Linked DNA regions of Homo sapiens: region 2 is linked to region 1. Evidence: fine-mapped expression QTL. A gene starts in region 1. The other region holds a variant in brackets. All regions are shown on one strand. Distances are from middle to middle. Region 1 holds the start of IMMT (inner membrane mitochondrial protein). Region 2 overlaps IMMT (inner membrane mitochondrial protein).

What was found.
Region 2: its variant is fine-mapped to the expression of IMMT in unexposed skin (GTEx, PIP 0.97).

The regions. Positions count from the first base shown.
Region 1 is chr2:86,186,731-86,203,755 of GRCh38, forward strand. IMMT (inner membrane mitochondrial protein) reads right to left here and starts at 8,732. Exons shown (of 15, transcript NM_006839.3): 1 at 8,608-8,732. The coding sequence starts at 8,652. MIR4779 (microRNA 4779) reads right to left here and starts at 6,378; the gene lies at 6,296-6,378. MRPL35 (mitochondrial ribosomal protein L35) reads left to right here and starts at 12,727. Exons shown (of 4, transcript NM_016622.4): 1 at 12,727-12,803. The coding sequence starts at 12,761. RefSeq lists enhancers at 8,233-8,282, 8,403-8,582, 8,603-8,722, 12,546-12,815.
Region 2 is chr2:86,169,017-86,179,989 of GRCh38, forward strand. IMMT (inner membrane mitochondrial protein) reads right to left here. Exons shown (of 15, transcript NM_006839.3): 3 at 10,417-10,606; 4 at 4,634-4,745; 5 at 2,192-2,329; 6 at 1,733-1,828. Among named protein-coding and RNA genes, the nearest start is that of MIR4779, 19 kb to the right of the region's middle. The variant G/T (reference allele first, on the strand shown) is at 3,953.

The DNA.
Region 1 (17,025 bases):
TGAGGGTCTCTGAGCAAAAATTTTCCAGAACTGAGTAAGGCAATAAATACTGTTATTTTACCCCAAGCTCAAGGTGGCCTGTTATGCAGCTGTAACTCATAAGAACAGATCTTTTTAAATTCATGGATTTAAACACTTTTGATGGATTTCAACCATTTGTAATTACTGTCTTTTTGCTCAAATTTTCCTATCTTGGGCCAATGGAAGCCTCTGCAAGTTTAGGGTGTGTATGTGTGTATCTAGCTCTGGCTCTATACTTCCGGCCATCTGCAAATACCTGGTGGCAGGTATTTTTTTTTTCCTCTATGTGACAAAATCCCCTTAACATAAAATTCACCATTCTAACCATTTTAAAATGTACAATTCCACGGTATTTAGTACATCCACGATGTTGTACAACAACCATCACCACTATCTAATCTTAGAACATTTTCATCACCCTAAAAGGAAATCCTATATCCATTAAGCAGTCATCCCCCATTTTCCTCTCTCTCTGGCCCCTGGCAACCACCATGTACTTTCTGTTTCTATGAATCTGCCTGTTTGAGATATTTTGTATAAATGGAATCACACAATGTACATCTTTTTGTCCAGCTTCTTTCACTTAGTGTAATGTTTTCACGATTCATTCACATTGTAACATGTATCACATATGTAGCTTGTACTTCATTCCTTTTTATGGCTGAATCTAATATTTTATCACGTAAATATACCATATTTTGTTTAACCAGTCATCAGTTAATGGACATTTGGGTTGCCTCACCTTTTGGCTGTGAATTGTGAATAATGTTGCTATGAATATTCATCTAAAAGTTTTTGTTTGAACACCTGTTTTTTATTCTTTTGGCAGGGAACTTCAAGGTCATATGGTAATTCTATGTTTAAATTACTGAGACACAGCCAGGCTCAGTCGCTCACGCCTGTAATCCCAGCACTTTGGGAGGCTGAGGCAGGCAGATCACCTGAGGTTGGGAATTCGAGACCAGCCTGACCAACATGGAGAAGCCCCGCGTCTCCAGTAAAAATACAAAATTAGCTGGGCGTGGTGGCGCATGCCTGTAATCCCAGCTACTCGGGAGGCTGAAGCAGGAGAATCCCTTGAACCCAGGAGGTAGAGGTTGCGGTGAGCCGAGATCGCGCCACTGCACTCCAGCCTGGGCAACAAGAGTGAAACTCTGTCTCCAGAAAAAAAAAAAAAAGTTACTGAGACACCACTAAACTATTTTTTCACAGCAGCTGTACCATTTTACATTCCCACTAGCAATGTATGAGGGTTCCAATTTCTCTATACCCTCACCAACATTTGTTATTTTCCATTTTTGTTTTGAGATGGAGTTTTGCTCTTGTCGCCCAGGCTGGAGTGCAATGGCGCAATCTCAGCTCCCTGCAACCTTCGCCTCCCGGGTTCAAGTGATTCTCCTGCCTCAGCCTCCCAAGTAGCTGGGATTACAGGTGTGTACCACCATGCCCGGCTAATTTGTTATTTTCCATTTTTATTATAACCATCTTAGTGGTTGTGAACTGAGTATCTCACGGTTTTAATTTGCATTTCCCTAGTGTCAAAGGATGTTGAGCATCTTTCCATGTGCTTCTTAGCCATCTGTATATCTGCTTTGGATGAATGGCTATTCAAGTCCTTTGCTCATGCATACACATACACGCACACACGCGCACACACACACGCACACAAATACATATATGTATATATGTGGAGACAGCATCTCACTCTGTCACCGAGACTGGAGTGCTGTGGCACCATCATGGTTCACTGCAGCCTCGACCTCACAGGCTCAAGCAATCCTCCCACCTCTCAGCCTACCGAGTAGCTAACACTACAGGTGCATGCCACCACACCCAGCTAATGTTTGTATTTTTTGTAGAGACAGAGTTTCACCATGTTGTCCAGGCTAGTCTTGAACTCCTGCGCTCAAGCGTTCTGCCTGCCTCAGCTTCCCAAAGTGCTGGGATGACAGGCATGAGCCACAGAGCCTGGGCCCTTTGCCTGTATTTTTATTTGGGTAGTCTTTTTTGTTACTGAGTTGCAGGAGTTCCTTACCTAAAAAGAAACACCTCATCAGATATGAGGGTCTAGTATCCAAAATATCTAGTATCCATTAGAATACTTTCATCCTTTTCACTCTCAAGTATCCCTCTGATGCACAAAAATTTAAAATTTTAATGAAGTCCAATTTATCTTTAGTTTCTCTTGTTGCTTGTGCTTTTGGTGTTATAGTTAAGAAACCATTGCCAAACATAAGGTCTGTCTCCAGAGCTCTCTTAAGTACTAAACTATTAACATAAACTAAATATCCTACATTAACACACAAAATATTGGCTACTTTTTTGTCCTGGAATTCCTTTTTATTAATAAGGACCTATGACATAGAAAGGACAACACTGTTTCAAAGCAATCTGTCTAGACATATGTTATAAGGTTAGCCTTGCTGCTTCTAACCCGCAGAAACGTGATATTAAAAAAAAGAGGAAACATATAATTCCCATGTAATGTTCTTTTTTTTTTTGAGATGGAGTCTCGCTGTGACACCCAGGCTGGAGTGCAATGGTGTGATCTCGGCTCACTGCAACCTCCATCTCCTGGGTTTAAGAGATTCTCCTGCCTCAGCCTCCCGGGCAGCTGGGATTACAGGCACCTGCCACCACACCCGGCTAATTTTTGTATTTTTAGTAGAGACGGGGTTTCACCATATTGGCCAGGCTGGTCTTGAACTCCTGACCTCAAGTGTTCCGCCCCATGATTAATGCTGTTACACAGACCATCTGTTCCTTAGCTCTACCAAACTAAAGTGAAGACATAAAGAAACCACAATCTAGCATGACAACCTGGACATGGAGCCTGTAGTATGAGCTGCCTCATGTGAACTCTAACTAGAGGTTCCAGGTTTCCTCCACAGACTGCTGGTTGCTGTCAACTGATAACGTTTTTGTGGATCTTGTCATACATAAGGACTCCTCCCACACAAACGAAAAAGGCACCCATAAGTTAATGGGCAGTTCTACATTTGAAATATAGATTGATATACAACAAATTAACTTTTTCTACTGTTAATTTAAAATAGTTTATAAGAATCATGCATTAAGGTTAAAAAGTATATCCCACAAAAAAATCCAGTAAGTTTTTACATTGAAATTTTACATTTTACATTACAATTTTACATTGAAGCAGCATTACATTTCAGTATAAACATATTCTATTCTAGGAGAACACGTGCTCTTTAGTTATAGAAATGGCAGATACTTATCAGTATGACAAAAGCAGGAACTTGACACTTTAGTTTTCCCTGCACATATGTGAATATATTTTGTATGTTATCACTTCGGTGTAGTAAGTTACGGCGTAAGATGTATTTCAAAATGGTTTGAAGGCTACTGGTCTAGAGATATGAAAAAAGGAACAATGAAGAGGATTCTAGCATGGGTAGAAGCAAACACCTGGCCGCATGATCTACTAAACTACTTTCTAGCACGTGTGGTTGGCTGCCTATCTCTATCACTGAGTAACATAATGTTTCATAATCCTAACAGAAAGAAGGAATTCTAGAAGATGATAGCTCATGTCCACACACAAGTTCAATCCTAAACTAGCTGGGTTATCAAACTTGGTCTTAAGTAAGCTGGAGCGGTTGATCCTCAAGAATAATAATGTTTCTTCTTCTTCTTTCAAGTTATAAGCAGGAAAGACTACTCCATATGTAAATGACCACTTCCAGGTTTGTAGTTTGAGAGAAGGCTAGGCTAGGCGGAAAGCCCATGTCCTCCAAACTCAATGACCACTTCAAAAAGGCTGGGCCTGGTGATGCAGTATTGGGACTAAGAGAAGAAAGATGGTGTTAGGTCTGAGGAATAAAAGAAGAAAACAAAAACAGAGGGACCAGAGTTCTAAAGCACATTTACTGAATACCCACATCTAAGGAATGCAAGGATGATAAGCCCAAACATAAAGAATAAGGCAGATACTGTGTCGGGTGCAGTGACTTAAGCCTGTAATCCCAGCACTTTGGGAGCCCAAGGCGGGCAGATCACGACGTCAGGAGATCGAGACCATCCCGGCTAATATGGTGAAACCCTGTCTCTACTAAAAATACAAAATATTAGCTGGGCACAGTGGCACGTGCCTGCAGTCCCAGTTACTCGAGAGACTGAGGCAGGAGAATTGCTAGAACCCAGGAGGCGGAGGTTGCAGTGAGCCGAGATTGCACCACTGCATTCCAGCCTGGGCAAAGAATAAGGTAGATACTATCTGTGATGGTTCATTTTATGTGTCAACTTGGACTGTGTTTTTGGATGAGATTAACATTTTAATTGGTGAACTAGTGGCCAGGCATGGTGGCTCACTCCTGTAATCCCATCACTTTGGGAGGCAAAGGCGGGTGGATTGCTTGAGCCCAGGAGTTTGAGACCAGCCTGGGTAATATAGCCTGTCTCTACAGAAAAAAAAATACAAAAGTTAGCTGGGTGTGGTGGTGCATGCCTGCAGTCCTAGCTACTCAGGAGGCTGAGGTGGGAGGATGGCTTGAGTCTGGTGGATGGAGGTTGTAGTGAGCTGAGATTGCACCAATGCACTCCAGCCTGGGTGACAGAGCAAGACCCTATCTCAAAAAAAAAAAAAAAAAAATTTGCCCTATAACATGGGTGGGCTTCATTCAATCAGTTGAGGGCTCAAAAACAACAAAAAGCAAGAGGCAATTCTCTAGCAGACTGCCTCCAGACTGAAACTGCACCATCCACTCTCCTGGGTTTCCAGGCTGCTGGCCAGCAGACTGCAACTGCAATATTGGCTGTCCTAGGTCTCCAGTCTGCCAAACCACACAGCAGATTCTGGACTTGCCAGTCTCCATAACTGTGTGAGTAGAGTCCTTACAATAAATCTTTCAGCCAGGCGCGGTGGCTCACGCCTGTAATCCCAGCACTTTGGGAGGCCAAGGTGGGGGGATCACAAGGTCAGGAGATCGAGACTATCCTGGCTAACACGGTGAAACCCCGTCTCTACTAAAAATACAAAAAAAAAAAAAAAAAAAAAATTAGGCGTGGTGGCAGGCGCCTGTAGTCCCAGCTACTTGGGAGGCTGAGGCAGGAGAATGGCATGAACCCGGGAGGCGGAGCTTGCAGTGTGCTGAAATGGCGCCACTGCACTCCAGCCTGGGTGACAGAGCAAGACTCCATCTCAAAAAAAATTAATAAATAAATAATAAATCTTCCTAGGCTGGGCACTATGGCTCACGCCTGTAATCCCAGCACTTTGGGGAGGAGAAGGTGGGGATATTGCTTGAGCCCAGAAGTTCAAAATGAGCTGGAACAACATTGCGAGATCCCATCTCTACTAAAAGTCCAAAACATTGGCTGGGCATGGTGGCATAAGCCTGTAGTCCCAGCTACTCAGGAGGTGAGGTGGGAGGATCGCTTAAGCCCAGGAGATTGAGACTGCAATGAGTTATGATCACACTGCTGTACTCCAGCCTGGGCAACAGAATGAGACCCTATCTCTACACACACACACACACCCTTATTGTTTCTGTTTCTCTGGAGAATCTGAATATATAATCAGAGGTTTGAAAATCTATGGGATGTTTAAAGGGAGGTCACATCCACTTACACAGATTAAGAAAAATTCCACTTTGGGAGGCCGAGGTGGGCATATCACTTGAGCCCAGAAGCTGAAGACCAGCCTGGGAAACATAATGAGACCCCATCTCTAAAAAATCTTTTTAAATTAAAAAAAAATTCATGAACACATTCATTCTTTCATTTATATATGTCATAAACATTCACTGAGCATCTACTTGGAGCCAGGGACTATTGTTAATACTGGAAATACAGCAGTAAATATGGACACAGTTCCATTGTGGAGCTTACTTTTTAAAGGTGGAAACTGTGTAATAAATACACATTATAACATCAGGTAGTGCTAGGAGCTACAAAGTATAACAAAGTAGGATGGGGTAAAGATATAGTGATACAAGGAAGGCAAGAGTAGTCAGAATTCTATTTTGGATCAGGATGCCCTCTCTGAAGGGAAGGTGACATTTGAGAAATTAACTGAAGGGAATAAGTTAAGCAAACCTGTGAGAAGAGTTCAGGGCAAAAGAAACACCTGATGAAAAGGCAGTGAGGCACATGCTGGAGATTACCAGGAGAATCTGAGTGAGGCAGTAGAAAAATGAAATATGAGAAGAGTCAGATCAAGGGCCCATGGTAAGCAGTTTAGATTTTATTTTGAATGTGATGCGATGTCTCCAAAGAGCATGACCTCATGTTTGCCTTTTAAAAAGCCTTTTACTAAATGTCTTACTGCTTTTACTATTCCCTCCTAGAGTAAAGAATGGACTCTAGGAGGGAACAGTAAAAGCAGTAAGACATTTAAGAAGATGGGGTTGGCTGGGCACGGTGGCTCGTGCCTATATTCCCAGCATTTTGGGAGGCAGAAGTGGGAGGATCATTTGAGCCCAGGAGTTCGAGACCAGCCTGGCCAACACAGAGAGACTCCGTCTCTACAAAAATTTTTTAAAAAATTAGCCAGGGATGGTGGCACATGCCTGTGGTCCCAGCTACTCAGGAGGCTGAGGTAAGAGGATTGCTTGCGCTCAGGAGGTCAAGGCTGCAGTGAGCCATGACTGTGCCACTGCACTCCAGCCTGGGTGACAAAGTGAGACTCCGTATCCAAAAAAAAAAAAAGAAAGATGGGGTTTAATAAAGTGGAAAGGATCTTGACAAGTGAGATATTCTGGATACGTTGATACAATCAAATACGACGAGGCTAGAGAGTCACCTGCTTGGGGATTAAAGTTCTGAGAGTTGATGTAATCTCAAATTAGAGAGTCTATAAAGAGACAGGAAGAGATGAGAAGGTGTATATTTCGAGGTACAAAGCAGAAGCAGACTCAGTAAAGGAAAACAAGAGAGATGGGACCCAAAATATTACTTGAGAGAAGCCAAAAGTACAAAGAGCCTCATAAAGCAGCAATGTCAAATGCTACAGAATTAAGGAGATGGTGAGAATAAACCAAAGAATTTTACAAGACAGCAATTTCAAGAAGCTTAGACATCTTGATTCAGAGCTATAAAAGGGTTCATTTTTTATTACCAAGTTTTAATTAGTTTTCTTAATTCCCAAATGGGATCCCAAAAAGTTGACTCTGAATTAACTGAAAAGGAGGTCATCCAGGTGGGCCTGGTCTAATCACATAAGCCTTTTAAATCTGGGTCTAGAGAGGAAAGACCAAAGTAAAAGAAATTTGGAAGTCAGAGAGGCAAGCTCCTGGTAGCCTGCACGAAAGCAAACATCAATGTTATGAATGGCCTCTAGAGGCCTTGAGGCAAGGAACTGTAGGCAGGCTGTAGAAGCTGGGAGCAGTGGCTGGCAAGAGGCAGCAAGAAAAGAAGTACTTCAGTCCTGTAACTGCAAGGGACTGAATTCTGCCAACAAACTGCATGAGCCTGGAAGAGGACCCTGATCTCCAAATGAGAACCACAGCATGGCTAATACTTTGCAGCCTTATGTGACCTGGAGCGGAGAACACAGATCATCCGTGCCCAGACTTCTATCCTACAGAACCCGTAAGGTCATTCATGGGTGTTGTTTTAAGCTGCTAAATTTGTGGTATTTGTTACGCAGCAATAGAAAACTAACACAGGTTCGTTCCACTTTCCTATGGAAGGGGCTGCTTCTGTTACCTAGCAGCAAATAGGAAGAGAAGCGAACTTGAAAAAACAAAGCTTGACTTTTATGATCTCTAACTCACTATTCCTAGGGATTCTGTTCAATTACTGCTTGAGTCACAGTACTTGGTTTGCTATCTACATTTTGCCAAAATATCAACTTCCTGAAAATCATGAGCAGTGGAAACAGGCTTTTTAATTTTCAATTTTAGAAAGTAACTTTGGCAATTACGCAAAACTAGAAGTAACTGGGTATTTAGGCTCCTTGAATGTCAAAGTAGTCCCAGCGCCTGGAGACACAGATCCCTGCCCTAATCTCAGAAATGAGCCACAAGGTCATGACTCCTGTCTTTCCTTGAAGACCAGGAGTTTCAGCTCCACAAATGAAAATCTTTCGCTTTTGTTTGGATTAAGAATAACTCAGAAGTGTTCTCAGCTGCGAAAAGAAAGGCACTCCCTCCCAGATAATTACAACCTTGACCCCTAAAATGTGGACTCTCGCTAGAAGTCCAGGCACCTCCTTATTAAGGATGCAACAAGCCGCCGCTCCGCTCGTCCTGACGGGAACTGTAGTTCTCGCCCGTCGACCTTCAGCACTGAAAACCTATCGCGCGCCCAACCGGCGACCCAGACGCCAGCAGCCAGGATTGGTCCTGGACGGGGGCAGCGCGGCCCTGATTGGACTACATGCCCACGAAGCCGCGCCTCCCGCTACTCTCCACACCCCACCCCGCTGCTGCAATAACCTCAAGTCATCCCAGTCCGGCGAACTCCCTGGTGGCTGCCTAGCTGCCCGCCCGGGCCTCTCCCGACGAGGGTGGCCCTGAGGCTCGCCTTTGTCCTGGAGGCTAGGCAGCGACCAAGGCTCCCCCGTTTTTCGCTGACGGTTCTAGTTCAGCCTCCTCACGCGCCTCCGGGAGCCCCAGTGCTCACCTGGGCGGCGGCGGTCACACCCGATAACTGACAGGCCCGCAGCATCTCGGTCAAGCGGACGGCGCTGCTGGTGGACTCGAGCTGCCGCGGCGGCGCGAGTTAAGTGGAGGCGTGCTTGCGTGTGTGCGTGCCCGCGTCCGCGCCCGGCGCACCGGAAGCACAGCGGACGCCACTGCGCACGCGCGGCCCCTTCTACCGTCCCCGACTCCGCGGCTCTTAGAGGGTGGGCTGTGTCCCGGCTGCGGAAACGCCAACTCCAGGCGATTGGCGCGAAGGAGGCGAAAAGGGCGGATTCCCTTTCCGGGTCGCGCCCGGGCTGCAGGTCCTTATCCGGAAGGGGTTACTAGGTGAACACTGCCGGAGGGAGAGCGCTCTGAAATCCATTCTTCAGCCGCACGTGGAAAATGGACAGCTGTGACTCTTAAAGAGAATTAAAGCAACAAAGCATCTCAGCCTGCTCTATGAGCTGGATATTTCGTAGGAAGGAGCCGATTTGGCGAAAGTTACGTAAACAATGGAATTGTCTCAGTTTGCGCCTTTGTTTCGTTTGACAGCCCTCCAGGGAGTCATAGTGATTGCTGGAGACGGTGAACTAACACTGTGGGGACCCTTGTGCTAAACGTGTCAAGTGGCACAACAAGGATAGGAACACGGGTCCTTTGGACTCCACAGCTTCTGCTCCTTCCAGATTAAGCCACACTGCTTTCTCCAAGTTGTTACTGTAGTAACATCATTTTGGCTGCAGTTTGTGGATGGGTTGGAAGATGGGAAGTCAATGCAGAAGCACCGTTGAAAGTATTCCACTGGGCAGGGCGCGGTGGCTCACGCTTGTAATCCCAGTACTTCGGGAGGCCGAAGCGGGAGGATCGCTTGAGCCCAGAGGTTCGATACCAGGCTGGGCAACACAGTGAGACCTCGTCTCTATATAGAAAAATAAACAAACAAAAAATTTAAAAAGAAAAGTAGGGCCAGGAGCTATGACTCACGCCTGTAATCCCAGCACTTTGGGAGGCCAAGGCGGGTGGATCGCCTGAGGTCAGGAATTCGAGACCAGCCTGGCCAAAATAGTGAAACCCCGTCTTTACTAAAAATACAAAAAATTAGCTGGGCATGGTGGCGGGTGCCTGTAATCCCAGCTACTCGGGAGGCTGAGGCAGGAGAATTGCTTGAGCCCGGGAGGCGGAGGTTGCAGTGAGCCGAGATCACGCCATTGCACTCCAGCCTGGGCAACAAGAGCGAAACTCTGTCTCAAAAAACAAAAGTATTCCATTGATTCTGTAATCAAAATAAAACACGTTAAATATTAAGCATGGTATTAATACTCCATGTATACTCCAGAATTAATATGTTCGTATTAATACTATTAGCATCTTATTGCAATATCGTGGAAACTAACTTTTCTATCTTCTATTGGATTTGCAAAGTATTCCAAGTCTTAACTGGGTAATTTATTACAATATGTATTCTCTCTAGAGGTAGACTGCGCTATGACTTGTAGCATGGAGAGATGGACTTGAAAATTATCTGAAAGCAATAGTTATGTTTGTATATGTTCTATGTTCTATGGTTTTTAGGGGACTACAGTAATTACATATGTTTCATATCTCTTTCACTTAGCTTCCAGAGCAGTCTCCCGTTTTCTTTAGTAATTTTAGCAATTGAATTGCTGCCTCCCTGCCCACTGCTGTCATGCCCAGTGGTGCCGGTGTGATGACTTTTCTAACACCCTTGTCTTTGAACTTCTTAATGCCAGTGAACGCTTTCATCCTGCTTCAGTCATGTGGTGCCCGTGTGATGACTTTTCTAACACCCTTGGCTTTGAATTTGTCAATGCCAGTGAATGTTTTCATCCTGCTTCAGTCATGTACGTCACAGCCACAACTTGCGCCTGAACATCATTAGCAACCTCTCTAGCTTCAAGATCTCAAACCTCAAAATTAGCCTCCCAACCCCTCATAACCTACGTGGAGAGTCCTCACTCTCCACTTGGAAGTTGTCAATATTTTTGCTTTAAAATGTTATCAGGCAGGCCAGGCGCTGTGGCTCACACCTGTAATCCCAGCACTTTGGGAGGCTGACGCGGGCGGATCACCTGAGGTCAGGAATTCGAGACCAGCCTGGCCAACATGGTGAAACCCCGTCTCTACTAAAAATACAAAAATTAGCTAGGCTTGGTGGTGCGCGCCTGTAATCCCAGCTATGTGGGAAGCTGAAGAAGGAGAATCACTTGAACCTGGGAAGCAGAGGTTGCAGTGAGCCAAGATCACACCACTGCACTCCAGCCTGGGGGACAAAGCGAAACTCCGTCTCAAAAAAAAAAAATTTGTTACCAGGGGCTGGGTGTGGTGGCTCATATCCCGGCATTTTGGCAGACTGAGGTGGGAGGATCACTTGAGCCCAGGAGTTTGAGACCTGCCTGAGCAAAAGAGTGAGACCTCTCCCAGCACTTTGGGAGGCCGAGGCGGGCGGATCATGAGGTCGGGAGATCGAGACCATCCTGGCTAACACGGTGAAACCCCGTCTCTACTAAAAAAAATAATAATAATACAAAAAATTAGCTGGGTGTGGTGGCAGGCACCTGTAGTCCCAGCTACTTGGGAGGCTGAGGCGGAGAATGGTGTGAACCCGGGAGGCGGAGCTTGCAGAGAGCCAAGATCGCACCACTGCACTCCAGCCTGGGCAACAGAGCGAGAGTCTGTCTCCAAAAAAAAAAAAAAAAAAAAAAAAAAAAAAAAAAGTGAAACCTCATCTCTATAAACAATTTTTTTAAATTAGCAGGGGATGATTGTGCATGCCTGTGGTGCCAGCTACTTGGAAGGCTGTGGTGGGAGGATCCCTTGAGCTCAGGAATTCCAGGCTGCAGTGATTGCACCACTGCACTCAGACCCTGTCTCTAAAAAACAAAATTTAAATCAAGTCACTCACTTGTTCAAAAATGTGCAGTGAGGCCAGGCTCAGTGGCTCACACCTGTAATCCCAGCACTTTGGGAGGCCAAGGTGGGAGACCTGTTTGATTCCATACCAAATAATTGAGACCACCCTGGGCAACATAGTGAGACCTAGGTCTCTACAAAAAATTTAAAAATTAGCCAGGTGTGTGCCTGTAGTCTCAGCTACTCAGGAGGCTTAGGTGGGAGGATTGCTTGAGCCTAGGAGGTCGAGGCTGCAGTGAGCTGTGATCGCACCACTGCACTCAAGCCTTCGCAACAGACCAAGACCTAGTCTCAAAAAAAAAAAAAAGTGCGCAATGACTCCCGTTGCCAATTCAAAGAGCTTTTATGAATGTTTCAATATACTTGTCTAGCGTATGTGCCTGTTTTTGGACTCAAAGTGGCCACCATAGGTGGGAGATCAAGTTGGCAACAATAGTGTTCCAAGGTAATACACCCTATATCTTGCTCTGTACCCCAGGCTGGAGTGCGGTGGCTCAATCTTGGCTTGCTGCAACAACCGCCTCCCAAGTTCAAGCGATTCTCCTGCCTCAGCCTCCCGAATAGCTGGAACTACAGGCGCGCGCCACCACGCCCGGCTAATTTTTTGTACCCCTTAGTAGAGACGGGGTTTCACCCTGTTAGCCAGGATGGTCTCAATCTCCTGACCTCGTGATCTGCCCGCCTCGGCCGCCCAAAGTGCTGGGATTACAGGCGTGAGCCACCGCGCCCGGCAAGAATTTTTTTTTTTTTTTTGAGATGGAGTTTCGCTCTTTCGCCCAGACTGGAGTTCAGTGGCACGATCTCTGCTCACTGCAACCTCCGCCTTCCGGTTTCAAGCGATTCTCCTGCCTCAGCCTCCCAAGCCCGGCTACTTTTTGTATTTTTAGTACAGACGGGGGTTTCATCATGTTGGCCAGGCTGGTCTCGAACTCCTGACCTTGTGATCCGCCCGCCGCGGCCTCCCAAAGTGCTGGGATTACAGGCGTGAGCCACCGTGCCCGGCCCCAAGAATTTTTTTTAATAAGAAATTTTGTAGAACCTTCTATAGGCAGTCGTTTTACAGCGGCGAAGAACGGAACCCGGCAGATGACATTGAATAAATGTTGAGTGGACAACTTTGTTCTTTTCCTCTTCCTTGACTCCGCCTCCTTGCTTTCCCTTCATTCTCTTTTGCTCTTGTGCTTTTAAACCCAAAGCGGCCGCCGTAGGCGAAGGTGAAGATGGCTGCCTCTGCCTTTGCTGGTGCAGTGAGAGCAGCTTCAGGTCAGTGGAGAGCGACATACTCCATGCATGCCTTCACAGAAGGGGAAACTGGTGCGGGATGGAATGGGCGTTTAGACTGGAGGTTAACAAGCAAAAAGGGTCATTATTTAAGTTAAGAAGGTTGCGCCCAATTTTCTCTGGGGCGGTGTGACCGGCAGCCCGTACCAAGTCCCCCGACTCGGACTCACGCGGGCCTGTGTGTCACGCATTTGCCGCTTCCTTACCAGCTTTTTTTCCCTAGAAAAGAAGCCAGAGAAACTGGAACGGAGGGGGCGAGGGAAACCAAAAAGTCTCACCTAACTTTCTGATTTAGAGGCTACGACCTGCCATTCACGACCTTTAACCTTGAGAATTAATGTCTCCTAACTTAAGATTCTACACCTCTAAAATGGGGGTCATAACCACCTACCTGGGGATTAAATGAGATAATGCACGTAAAGCGTTTTGGGCAGTGCCTGACACATGGTAAGCTTGAAGGCTAATTTAATTTTTAACTACAGCCCCCGGCACAAGGGCTGGTATGAGGACTTCTTGACTGAGAGATAGCAGAAGTAAAGGCGACTAAATTAAGTTGCCGTGACGTTAAGTACTTTTTGCAAAAAGTTAAAAATCATCCAAATACCATAGGATGCTCAGTAAGTTACTTTCACACAAAATATATTGTTAGGATAACATTTTGTGGGAGAATATACGAGATCAGTCAAGAAAATGCAGCGATGTAAATTTTACCGTTAGAGAAAAGCTTTTTTTATGTGGAGTATTTTTTGTGTTCGCGAAATATAATACATATGAAGAAAATTTTATATAGTATGCATGAATGATTTAACAGTTCTAAAGCAAACACCTGTTTAACACTCAGGTCAAAACAGTGCACTACCAGAAGCCTCCTCTCCCCTATGTATCAAAATTCTCTACTTCCCCCCCAGATATAAACACTGTTCTCATTTTTATAGTTACTATTAGGTTGCCTATTTTTCCTATAGTAGTTTTAGCATCCATATGTGCATCTCAAGAACATAGTTTTGCCTGGTTTTGAACTTCACATGAATTGGTTCATACAGTATATACGCTTTAGTATCTTCTTTTACATTGTGAGATTCATTCATTCATTTTGCGTAGCTGTAATGCTTTCTCATTGCTATATAATTCTTTTTTTTTTTTTGAGACGGAGTTTCTCTCTTGTTGCCCAGGCTGGAGTGCAATGGCACGATCTGGGCTCACTGCAACCTCCTCCTCCCAGGTTTAAGTGATTCCCTTGGAGTAGCTGGGATTACAGGCATGCGCCACCACGCCCAGCTAATTTTGTATTTTTAGTAGAGTTGGGGTTTCTCCATGTTGGTCAGGCTAGTCTGGAACTCCTGACCTCAGGTGATCCGCCCGCCTCGACCTCCCAAAGTGCTGGGATTACGGGTGTGAGCCACCCTGCCCGGCCTGCTGTATAATATTATATGACTGTGCCACAATTCTCCATTTCCAGTTTGGGGCAATTATGTACAAAGCTGATTGATCTCATCCTGGCGCATGAGTCCAATTGTTTCTGAGGATGTGGGTATGTGTGAAAATCGCTGTGGAATTGCCTGGTCAGAGAATATGTATATATTCAGCATTGCCTGATATTGCCAAACTGTTGAGGCCCCACATCCTCACCAACACCTGATATTGATATTGTCAATAGATATTGTCAGACCTACAAATTTTTGTTAATCTGGTGGCTTTGTAATGGTATCTCATTGAGATTTAAATAAGCATTTCTCTGATTAATAACAAGCTATAGTGTGTTTCACATTTTTATTGGCCTTTTGAATTTCCTTTATGAAATATCCACTTAAATATTTTGCCCATTTTCCTATTGGATTGTTTGTCTTATTTATTTAGAGTATTTTTTGTTTTGTTTTTGTTTTTCATTTGTGTGTGTCCTTTAGCTTCTCCCACTCAGGCTTGTCTTTTTTACATTATTTTGGAGTGCCCTTTGACGAAAAGTTGTTTTTCATCTACTTGAATTTATAGTTCTTGTAATTTTTAAATAGATGATGTAGGTAGTTATCAACTTACTATTAATTTAGATTCTACTGAAAACAATTTAAAGAGTGATGTGACAGCTTATTTTAAAATGTCAGTATTTTAAATATGCTGGAAATTATAGCCTTTTTAACAATTTAAACTATTTGATATTTTAGATATTAAGAATTTGTGAAAGGGTAGTTTTTCAAAATTCTTTTAGGAAACATAGGATCAGAAATCTTGAAGACTCCTGGTTTCGATACTGTCACAGTCTCCTCCACTCCCATCCAGTGCAGTTCATGTCCCCCATTCATTCCTTTGATTCATGCCACATAGGGCCATTGTAATTCCCCAAATGTACATCGTCACCTTTGTACGTCCTATTCCCTCTGTCTCTTCGTACTCTGTCAAAACTCTGGTTTTGCGTTACCTCTTTTGTGAAAACATCTGTATTCTCTATACAACAGTGTGTTTAGAGTAGACTAGTCTGTATGAAAATGCCCAGACGGGGCAGAGGACTGAAGGAAATTAGTTACTTTCCTTGATGTACTGCACTTTTGTTAACAAAGCTAGACTGTTAGGTTTCCCTCACAGGCTTAATCACATGATTGATCCACCAGAAGGCGCAGTAGATAGAGCCTCCCCACATATTTTCCCATGAACTGCTCTCAACCAAGATCCCAGTTCCTGTTGTTCCCGTAACCATTTTTTCTAACTTCAGTGTATTTATTCCTGATTTCATCTTGTTGGTTTTGATCTGTTTTTCTCTCTTACTAAGATCACTTGGAGTTCTGATACTCTGTGTCTTCACAAATACATTAACAAGCCATTGTTCCCAGCTTGCTTTTTGGGAAAATTGATAAATATGTCTTATGCAGCCTCAGGATCTTCATAAAAATTGAGAACAAAAGAATTTCATAGGTTTTAATTTTTTAACCAAGAGATACCAAAATCTGATGACGTGTGAAAATTGGAACATTTTCTTGTCTACAGTCCTCCAATGCACTTAATCTTCCAAAGATTACCTCCTGCCTTATTACATCTGCACATCTTTTCAGTTCTTTGCGATTTAACTTATTTGATTTCCAAGGCCCTATGTAAGGGCTCTCTCATCAGTTTTCTGCACCAATGTTTATGCTACCCTTTTCAGTTGCAAATTGTTATCTCTTTTTCTTTTGTGGAGACAGAGTCTCCTTCTGTCTCCTGGAGTGCAGTGGCAAGATCTCGGCTCACTGCAACCTCTGCCTCCTGAGTTCAAGCAGTTCTCCTACCTCAGCCTCCGAGTAGCTGGGACTACAGGCGCGCGTCACTCTGCCCAGCTAATATTTCTATTTTTAGTAGAGACGGGGTTTCACATGTTGGCCAAGCTGGTCGCAAACTCCTGACCTCAGGTGATCCGCCGGGGCCTCCCAAAGTGTTGGGGTTACAGGGGTGAGCTACCACACCTGGCCCTGTTATCACTGATGGCCACATATTAATATACAGGTTAGGTATCTTTAATCTGAAACTTTTTGAGTACCAACATGACACCACAAGTGGGAAATTCTTTTTTTTTTTTTTTTTGAGACGGAGTCCCGCTCTGTCGCTCAAGGTGGAGTGCAGTGGCACAATCTCAGCTCACTGCAAGCTCTGCCTCCCAGGTTCACGCCATTCTCCTGCTTCAGCCTCCCAAGTAGCTGGGACTACAGGCACCTGCCACCATGCCCAGCTAATTTTTTTTTGTATTTTTAGTAGAGACGGGGTTTCACTGTGTTAGCCAAGATGGTCTTGACCTCCTGATCTCCTCGTGATCTGCCTGCCTCGGCCTCCCAAAGTGCTGGGATTACAGGCGTGAGCCACCGCACCCGGCCCACAAATGGAAAATTCTTTACCCGATCTCACGTGATCGGTGGCAGTCAAAACTTTGTTTCATGTACAAAATTATTTAAAATATTGTATAAAATTAACTTTAAGCTATATGTGTAAGATTTATATGAAACAAATGAATTTCATGTTTGGACTTGAGTCCCATCTCCAAGATATCTCCTTTATGCAAAATTTTAAAAAATCTAAAATACTTCTGGTCACAAGCATTTCAGATAATACTCAACCTGTATCATCTTTGCTAAGTATCCCTCTTCTTTATTATCTGCCATTAGCATTCATTAAATGTTTTCTCTGTGCTACCCTTCCAAGCACTATACATGCTTCATCTCATTCAAGTCTCATTACCTCTCCATAA
Region 2 (10,973 bases), 21 kb before region 1:
TTAGTCACTGTCCTTTGATCCTTGATAAATATTTCACATGCAAATGCATATGTGTATATTTTTAAAGTCAAGTTTGAGGGGGAATTAAGAGGTGACAGATAAAATTCTGAAAATTTTCACTTTGCCCAAAATGAAAGATGAGAGGAACCAGGCAAGGAAAAGAACAGCTGGAACAGCAGACATCTCCATCTTACGTTTATAACTTAATTTCAAGGTGCCCAAGTGATAAAGAGAGAAAAGTGAAAAGTGAAGAAAAAACAGGACTAAAAGAAAAAAGAAGTAGGAAAAATGAAATATTTCACTTAGTTAGAAGTCATTTATTAAATATTCACAAATATTTGTAACACAATCAGAAGAATACAAAAAATCAAAAACGAAAATCCAAATCCAAGTAGGAAAACTAATGCCATAGGCACAGAATGACACCTATGCTATTCTAAGAAACTTGGTTCCTCAGGGTAGGGCAGAACCAGCACATTACAAGGGAAACAGGAGCAAAACAAATGACAAGGAGATCAAAAAACTATAAACAGCTGCCATGAGTACTGAACTCTCTGTCCAGCAAAAAGCTACATCCCACGACCTCCAGAGACATCAACATATTATAGCACAGTACAAAAAATTATGTTACATGTGCTTTAAGACAGAAAAATAAATTGATAAATATCTATTATCTTTTTTAAACCATCAAAAAATTTAAGAATCCTGACCTACCGAGGACAGCAAAAATAATAATAATGATAAAAAAAACTTGGCCAGGTGTGGTAGCTCATGCCTGTAATCCCAGCACTTTGGGAGGCCAAGGTGGGAGGATTTCTTGAGGCCAAGAGTCCAACACTACCCTGACCAACACAGTAAGAGCCCATCTCTTAAAAACAAACAAACAAAAAAACCATAAAACTGAAACTTAAAAAGGAATATGCTTGTTAGCTGGAAACCAGCGATGTGTAGAACATTCCATGCCCCACCAGTGTCAGATAAAAGCACTACTAGAGAGTCCAGAGGCTAGATGATAAGGCAGTGTAAGCCATTCTGACTCCAACAAATAAATTTACAATTATTAATAAACAATTATTTACAAGTATAAATTAACAATTATTAATAAAAGACTCTTAGGGCTGGGTACAAGGGCTCAGGCCTGTAATCCCAGCACTTTGGGAGTTCAAGGTGGGAGGATCACTTGAGCCCAGGAGTACGAGACCAGTCTAGGCAACATAGTGAGATGCCTGTGTCTATAAAAAATTTTTAAAAAATTAGCTGGGTATGGTGGTACACGCCTGTAGTCCCAGCTACAGAGGAGGCTGAGGTGGGAGGATGGCTTTGGCCTGGGAGGTTGAGGCTGCAGTGAGCCATGACAGTGCCACCGCACTCCAGTCTGGGTGACAGAAAAGAGCCTATCTCAAAAAAATAAATAAAGGACTTTTAGGCAAGCTGCTAAAACATAAATAATCAATTTCTGTTTCCCAGAGTATAAAGAATCTTTAGCGCTAACATAATCTTTAGTATTATTTGGAGTTTTCACCAACTATACACTAAGAATAGCCTTTGTCACTTAGGTAAAAGAAGTTTAGATGAAATGAAGGTGATGAATAAAGCAATGCCACTAAAAAACAACCGCAGCAACAAAAGAAACCACAACTAGGTGATAGATGACAAACTTGTGCTGATAGTTTAAGAAGAGAGCAACTGGGAGATGACCCAAAATCCTTAAGAAGCTGTCTGGTTTACATACACTCAATTTTAACTTGTTCTTGTTTTTCCTGTTGTGCAAGGCGAGCTGCAACTTCTTCAGGTGGTCGCTCCCTTATAGAAGATGAGGATGCTTCTTCTTGCAGCAAAAGTAAATAAGAGGAAATCAAATTTCAGCATAGAATTTTAATAGCTAACAGGGATATAAAAAAAGCATCGTTTGTACTGGCCAGTTATATCAATGCAGGGCATTTTTGTGTTAAGAATTCTAAAACCATATCATTACTCTTAATGATTCCAAAATGAAGAAATAGGAATCAGGCTTTAATCTTCTTGTTTAAAAAGATACATTCGGACATTTAAATTTTAAAAATTTCCTAAGAAACTCTGAAGACCTAAACCTAGTGTAAATGTATACTTAGTGTCTACGTGTTGCCTAGGCATTAAATAGTTCTGATGAGTGTATCATGTATAAAAGAACAAATAGAAATAATTAAATTACCTGAAAGTGCAGGTGTGGGTTTTCCTTCACCAATTTCAGGGTGATCAGTTTTTAAAGATTCCTCAGGCTGAACTGCAGGGGCTGGGACCGACAGGGTATCACCTGCTGCAGAAATAATTTGAGCCGCTTCTGTAGGTGCTATAAATATATGTTACTCATGGTATTTATACTTTCCTGGGTTAACAGAGAAACACACAGAAATTTACTACCACCATCACCACCCACTTCACATCTGACTCCTTAGAGACACAAATATTTGTACTGCCACATGTTTGAATAACACACAAACAGGGGCACTGTCCACTGCATACATAAACTCACACAAAATGGACAATGGTTGGGAACGAACAAAAGAAAGAAGTCTTGTCTGCATCCACCTGCATTTTAACCATCATTATTCCAGGCAAGGCTTATAATAATAATATTAACACACAAGAAGGGGACATTTACACATGGAAAAAGAGTAACAAAGGAAAAAGCCTGTTAATGATGAAGACAGACAAAAGAAAGCAACTAAACAAAGAATATTTTTTAATTGCTTTGAAGAGTGGTAGAAGACGTGTGAGCAGGAAAAAGATTACAGTTTTAAACAAAAAGATGAAAGGTCACAGTGATCAAGAACAGAACTGAGTTAAAATACATATATATATATATATTTTTTGCACACTTTGGGAGGCCAAGACCAACCTGGCCAACACAGCAAGATCCCATCTCTATCAATCACTCAATCAATTTTTTGTGTGTGTAGTATATTTTTTTTTTTTTTTTTTTTTTTTGAGACAAGGTCTCACTCTGTTGCCCAGGCTGGAGAATAGTGGCACTATCATGGCTCACTGCAACCTCGACCTCCCAGGAACAAGCAATACTCCCACCTCAGCCTCTGGCACACAGCTGGGACTATACGTGTATACCACCACACCTGGCTGATTTTTACATTTTTTTGTAGAGACAGGGTCTCCCCTCTCTTGCCCAGGCTGGTCTCAAACTGCTAGGCTCAAGTGATCCTCCCTCCTCGGCCTCCCAAAGTGCTGGGATTACAGGTGTGAGCCACTGTGCCCGGCCTTGGTTTTAAAGTAACAGTCAATTATCAATCCCCTGGCTCAGCATTCTCTTCCCATCCCACCCAGCATATGAAACAATGTTTTTTTTTGTTTGAGACAGAGTCTTGCCCTGTCACCCAGGCTGGAGTGTAGGGGTGCAATCATAGCTCACTGCAGCCTCAACCTCCTGGGCTCAAGTGGTCCTCCCTCCCGAGTGCTGGGACTGCAGGCATGCACCGCCATCCCCAGCTAATTTTTAATTTTTTATAGAAACAGGATCTTGCTAAGTTGCCCAGGCTACTTTCAAACTCCTGGGCTTAGGTGATCCTCCCGCCTTGGTTTCCCAAAGTGCGGGATTACAGGCATGAGCCCATGCACCTGGCCTAAAATAAAATTCTTACAATGGCTTCCAAGGACTGCCACAATAAACTTTTTGCTCCCTCTCTGACCTCATTTGCTCCTGTTCTCCCCTTACTCAATTCACTCTAGCCTCATTTGCCCTTTGTTTGAATATATCAAGCCTCTACACCAGCTAATCCTGCTGCCTGGGATGCTTTTCCCCACCACCCTTTTACATGACTTACCCCCCTTATCTCTTTCTAATCTTTGCTCAGATAACCCCTTCCAGGTAAGGTATTCCTTACACATTCCATTTAAAACTGCAGTATTCCCTCCCACAATGTCTGACATCCTATACGTTTTACTTGTTTATTTCCTCTCC[G/T]CACCCAATCAAGAAATATTAGCTGAAAAAATTTTTTAACTGTTTTTGTTCATGGCTGTTTCCCCAGTACTTACAAGAATGTCTAGCACAGAAAAGACAGTAAATTTCTGCTGAATTAAAGAAAGTCAGGTGATTTAATCAAGGACAGACACAACAAAGGAGAAACATAAGAAGTTCAAATGTATACTGAACAGGTTAGAGTTCAACAGGCAAGTGCTGTAAATTAGGGTGGGGTGACTGGTAGTTTCTGAAGTCAAAAAATATCTGCAGGGACTAGAGCAAGACACTTTCATCACTAAGAAAGAAGAGAGGATAAAGAATTGGTGAAGAGGCCGGGCATGGTGGCTCACGCCTGTAATCCCAGCACTTTGGGAGGCCGAGGCGGGCAGATCACCTGAGAGCGGGAGTTTGAGACCAGCCTGACCAACATGGAGAAACTCCGCCTCTACTAAAAATAGAAAATTAGCTGGGCGTGCTGGCACATGCCTGTAATCCCAGCTACTCAGGAGTCTGAGGCAGGAGAATCGCTTGAACCTGGGAGGTGGAGGCTGCGGTGAGCCGAGATTGTGCCACTGCACTCCAGCCTAGGCAACAAGAGCGAAACTCCATCTCAAAAAAAAAAAAAGAATTGGTGAAGAGATTTACCTATAATTTTAAAAAGATGGTTCAAAATATAAGTACCTGTTGCTGAAGCTGGAGTATCTCCCTTTTGTTTTTGGAGTTGTGAGGCAGGCTGTTTAGATTCTTTCATTACTTCTGATACACTAGAGATTTTTAGTGGACCCGACTGAATCTTGGAAATAAAAAACATTTAACATTTCAGATATACTACTGTTTTTTAAAAAGGTACAGTGATTTGCAGTATTTCAAATGCCAAGTCTTTCAGGCTTTTAACATAAAGTTATCAACACTTTGTAACATATGTATTTTATTAAACATAGTTGAGAGAAACCACCATTACTAGAAAAGTGCAGTTCAAAAATTTCATTCCAAATGACCAGCCCATATTTTAATAGTAACAAAGGTTTCTATTAGGGTGACCAATAAAGTCCATGACATATGATCTTCTCATTAAACACCATTGCTTGTACTTACACAGTATTAAGAAGACTATTATCATTTCCTTTCTAAATCAAACTATGATGTCTTCTGTATACATTCAGTTAGAAGCAAATGATTATTAAAGGCTCTGAGTGAAAATACAAATGAATTTTGTTTCTTTGATCTCCAGGATTCATGCAATTGCACAGTAAGATATATGATCAATTTGTAAGCAAGGCTTGCCTTCCCCTTTCCCAATTATTGCCTGCTCTAAGTTTAAGACACTATTCATTTAAGAGGGCTGCCAGATATGTGCCAGAGAAAATTACTTTTATTTTTATTTCCACTTATGTTATTCCACTTTTTGCCCTAACTTGGCAGTAGGACTCAGATATCCCTAACATGACTACTTAAACACAACAGGGTGGTTCTGAACTTAGTCACTACCAGAAACCAGAATTATTTCCATTTTCATTAAAATATTATTTTTGAATGATGAAGACTGTTTACTGTAACAAGCAAAATAATGCCAAGATATATCAGTGGCTTTAACTTGCCTCTTCACTGCTCCTTTCCCTTTCCACTCTCTTAGGTAGCCACTGCTAATAGCCTGGAATCTATCCTTCTACTCCTGAGCAAAAGCTCTCGTATATACACATAAACAATGTTTCACTTCCTTAAACAAACCAAAATAGGGTTATATTATACAAATTACCTTGTAACTTGCTCTTTTTTTATTTAACACTATATCATGGACATTCTCTTTCAGGTCAAGAAATTCTGTTTAGTTGCATAATATCCTCATATAACGATTTCCCATAATTTGGTCAACTTCTCCTCTATAGTCATTCAAATTGTTTCCTGTTTTGTTTTGCTTTGCTGCTACAAACAAAGCAATGAACATCCATCCCTGTCCATTTAAATGAAAAGCACCGTAGTGTAATATCTATGGGATAGTTTTCAGAAGAGGAATTGTTGGGTCAAAGGGGTTGTATATTTTTAACAGATGTTAACAGATCACTTTCACTTAAGGTTCTAGTGATTCACATTCTCATAATTAAAGTTTGTGTGTGATCTATTTCCAAATTCAGTTGTTTTATTCCTCTAATTTCTTTTCCTGTGTCCCAACCTTATTTTATTAAAGTAGCAGTATAAAAAAGTCTATCTAGAAAAGCACCCCTCCTCATCCCTTTTTCAAAATGTTCTTGAGTAGTCTTGTACATCATTAATTCCTCCATATAAATGTTAAAACTGTATTATCTGGTTCCTCACCATCTAGAAAAATTCATTCAAATTCTTACTAGATTTGTGTATATAGACACATCATAAAAACATCATTTCTCTCTAATATATACATATACATTTCTCTCAAATATATATATATGTATGTCATATATATTTGGTACTATCTTAATGTAATTTGGTACTATCTTAATATATATTTGGTACTATCTTGGTACTATCTTTAATGACATACATATATATTTGAGAGAAATGACATTTTTATGATATGAAGTTCTATCCAGGAATGTAACAGTTGTAACCATTTAGGCAGGTGTTATTCCATGTCCATCAAAAAGATTTTATGCATGGACAGTAAATATAGAGACAATGTTATAACAAATCATGTTGCCACTAAAAAGGTTACTATGAAATAAAATGCACAGCAACAAGTTGACACGATGTTTAACAGTAGAGAGTGCTTGAGTAAATGGTAAAAAAAAAAAAAATAGAAACACTAACTGCTATTGTAATTCAGAGGTGAGAAAATTAACTTAGATCTGTACAGTGAAGGATGCAGCCCCTGAAGAGAACATTAATAAGCGAAGGAAAGGAAGTCATTCTGGGTAGGAGACCATCCTGAAAAAAAGCTGTACAAATGGAAGGGATCTTAGATGAGTTCTATCTTTAAGCATGGCCCTTGGAACAGTGCCTGCAGCATAATAATCATTTGATTAACATTGGTTGAATAAATGAATAAATGGAAAGCAAAGACATATTTGTAATGAAGGGCAACTGGTGTACAGCTAAGGGCTTATGTGCAGGACCCAGAGATAAGGCTGCAAAGGTAAACAAGTGCCAGATTGCCAAGGGTATTGAATGTCAACTTAAAAGCTAGCAAAGACCACAAACTACAGAAATAAAGGAGCCCAATGGCCAGTTCCTAGGCTGACATTTAAGCACTCCTGGCTTCATACTTATTCAGAAGGTAAGAAAGATTTCTCTAGTTTTTACATCCTGTGGTCTTCCATCTTTTAAACAATACAAAATATCTGGAAGTACATTAATAGGTGTTATCATGAAAATATCATAGCACTTCTTTTAGAAGATTCTCTGGTATTAATATAAGGATGACCCAGATTCTGTTAGGAGGAGAGATCTAGGTGGGTAGAGACTGGGAGGAAGATGGGAAAGACTGTGTGCGCATGGAGAGCAACAGGCCTAGTTCAGGAGACAATTTGGATATGAAGTGATAAAGGTCAGAATAGGGGTACGGATAGTGGTAATGCAAGAAGATTAAACAAGATAGGATAGCTAACAAAATATGAGCAACCTGTGAAGAATCTACGAATTCTGGCCTAGCTACACCTGACAACTTGGTACTATCTTTAATCCAAAAAAGCAAATAAGGAGCAGTGTAAGTGTGGAGGTGGTTTAGTACAAACATGCTGAGTTATTAACTAGAAATGTTCTCCAAGGTAGCTAAAGTGGAGTGAGGAGAGGCCAAGGCTATTTGGAGAGATAAAGGATTCATCTACAAAGAATGAAATCTGAAGTCACATCAACTGAGAAAAGAACACTTCTCTGAATTTTTCAACCTTACTCCATGCTCCTAGAACAGCTTCCAGCTATTTTTTCCTGGGTCATGCAGCTTAAAATAGATTCAAGATTTTAGAATAAATCCACAGGGTTCTGCTCCTTGACTTATGAAGCTGCAAAATTATCTCCCTCAGCCAATATGGACATTTTAAAGTCCATAGGGAAGAATAAATGATGTAGAAGACTAGTCAAAAACATTGTGAAAAAGTATGGTTGGGGTGGGTTACAGGGAGGAAGTTGGATGACATTTATTTTTCCAAACGTTAACTTTTGCTATAGGATGGGTCTCTAGATCATGTTAGATACTGGACAGTAAGTCCACCCAGTTTCTAAGAATAAACTGATCAGCTATGTCCAGCCTCCTAGCGTAAAGAAATGCCCAATACCAAAGAGCCAAAAATCCATGCTCTTTTACAGACTTTTTTTTTTTTTTACAAGAAGCTGTGTGTGAATGAAGAAACATTTAAGATTAGAGTTTAAAAATTTTTTTAGGCTGGGCGCAGTGGCTCACGCCTGTAATCCCAGCACTTTGGGAGGCTGAGGTGGGCGGATCACCTGAGGTCAGGAGTTTAAGACCAGCCTGGCCAACATGGTGAAACCCCATCTCTACTAAAAAATGCAAAAATTAGCTAGGCATGGTGGTGCACGCCTGTAGTCCCAGCTACTTGGGAGGCTGAAGCAGAATTGCCAGAACCCAGGAGGCAGAAGTTGCAGTGATCCGAGATCGCGCCACTGCAGTCCAGCCTGGGCGACAGAACGAGACTCTGTCTCAAAAGAAAAAAAAAAGAAAAAAATTTTAAGGCTGGTGAGAAAAAAAGGAATACACACAAAGTTACAGGAATAGTACAAGATATCCTGTCAACTAATCAGCATCTAGATGAAAATTCTGTGACTTTGTGTTATGGTCTAAAAGGAACCATTACTAACCATAATACGTGGTTTTATGTCATGACCATTCTGCACTTGTTTTTATAGTGTTCTAAGTAAGAGCTTGATAGCTGCAACAGTATGGGATAATATATAGATGTCCCCCTCAGTCCATAGGGAAACCATGGTTACCTCTACCCAAGTATCTCCTCCATTTACCCTTGTGTGCAGCACAGTTATTTTCTATGTGATATGTACTGAGAGCACTTATGGGACTCCAAAAGAATAATTATCCATCTGTACCAGCTACTATTAGTTCAATTTAAAGGAAACTGGCGGCCAGGAGCGGTGGCTCAAGCCTGTAATCCCAGCACTTTGGGAGGCAGAGGCAGGTGGATCACGAGGTCAGGAGATCGAGATCATCCTGGCTAACACAGTGAAACCCCGTCTCTACTAAAAAAAATACAAAAAATTAGCCAGGCGTGGTGGTGAGCGCCTGTAGGCCCAGCTACTCAGGAGGCTGAGGCAGGAGAATGGCGTGAACCCGGGAGGCGGAACTTGCAGTGAGCTGAGATCAGGCCACTGCATTCCAGCCTGCGTGACACAGCAAGACTCCATCTCAAAAAAAAAAAAAAGAAAAAAAAAAACTGGCCAGGCATGGTATCTCACACCTGTAATCCCAGCACTTTGGGGGGCCGAGGCAGGCGGACCACAGGTCAGGAGTTCAAGACCAGCCTGGACAACATGGTAAAACCCCGTCCCTACTAAAAATACAAAAAATTAGCCGGGTGTGGTGGCGCCCGCCTATAATCCCAGCTACTTGGAAGGCTGAGGCAGGAGAATCGCTTGAACCCAGGAGGCGGAAGTTGCAGTGAGCCGAGATCACATCACTGTGCTCCAGCCTGGGCAACAGAGCAAGACTCCGTCTTGGAAAAAAAAAAAGAAAACTAACATACATACATCTGGCAAGTTGCACTGCATACAGACAAAACACAACTGGCTCTCCATATCTGTAGGTTCTACATCCATAGATTCAACCAACCACAGATTGAAAAAGTATATTTTTTAAAAAATTGCACCTGAGGCCAGGCATGGTGGCTCATGCCTGTAATCCCAACACTTTGGGAGGCTGAGGCGGGCAGATCACCTGAGGTCAGGAGTTTGAGACCAGTCTGGCCAACATGGTGAACCCCATCTCTACTAAAAATACAAACAATTAGCCGGGCATGGTGGCAGTTGCCTGTAATCCCAGCTACTCGGGAGGCTGAGGCAGGAGAATCGCTTGAACCCGGAGGCGGAGGTTGCGGTGAGGCGAGATCATACCACTATACTCCAGCCTGGTTAACAAGGGTGAAACTCTGTCTCAAAACAAAAACAAAAACAAAAACAAACAAAAACAAACTGCATCTGTACTAAACATGGACAGACTTTTCTTTCTTGTCATCATTCCCTAAATAACACAGTATAATGAAAATTTAGACAGCATTTACAATGTATTAGATATTACATCTAATCTAGAGATGATTTAAAGTATATGGGAGGGTATACATAGGTTATATGCAAACACTGTAACATTTTATATCTGAGACTTGAGCATCCATGGGATTTTTGTATCCACAGGAGGTCCTGAACCTCTCCTTCAAGAATACCAAAAGACAACTGTATTTTCAACATGAAAACAACTTGCTTTTAAAGTATTTCATTGGATAAACTGAAATATTGTTTAAAACTCTTACCGATTTCTTTGGCAATGGAACATTATAAGCTGCAGGACCAAGAACCATCTCGAAGAGTTTGTCTGAGTAAGGTATGGTTTTCTCTACACTTTCCCGGAAATGGGAATCCCATTTGGCATATAGGATAGTGCCACCAATACCTCCACCAACAAACAAAAGGCCAGCTCCAGCAATTTTGCCAGTAGTCAACCTAAGTGAAAGAAACAGGAAATACATTTATATTTCTTGGCTCTCCTACACCTATTTTCCTATACCAATGTAACCATCTCGAAGACCTCTAGCCTCTACTTATCTACCACTAATTCAGATCATAGCAGCCAAGTTTACCACCATGTCTGCACATCACCTTTTCCTGATTTGTTTATAACATGTTGCCACCAAAAATAGTATTTATTCATTTTAGGAGGCCTAGGTGGAAGGGTTGCTTGAGCCCAGGAGTTCAAAACCACCCTAGGCACCACAGTAAGGCCCCATCTCTACCCACCACACCCTGCCAAAAAAATTAGCCAGGTGTAGTAGCACGTGCCCCAGCTACTCAAGAGGCCGAGGTAGGAGGA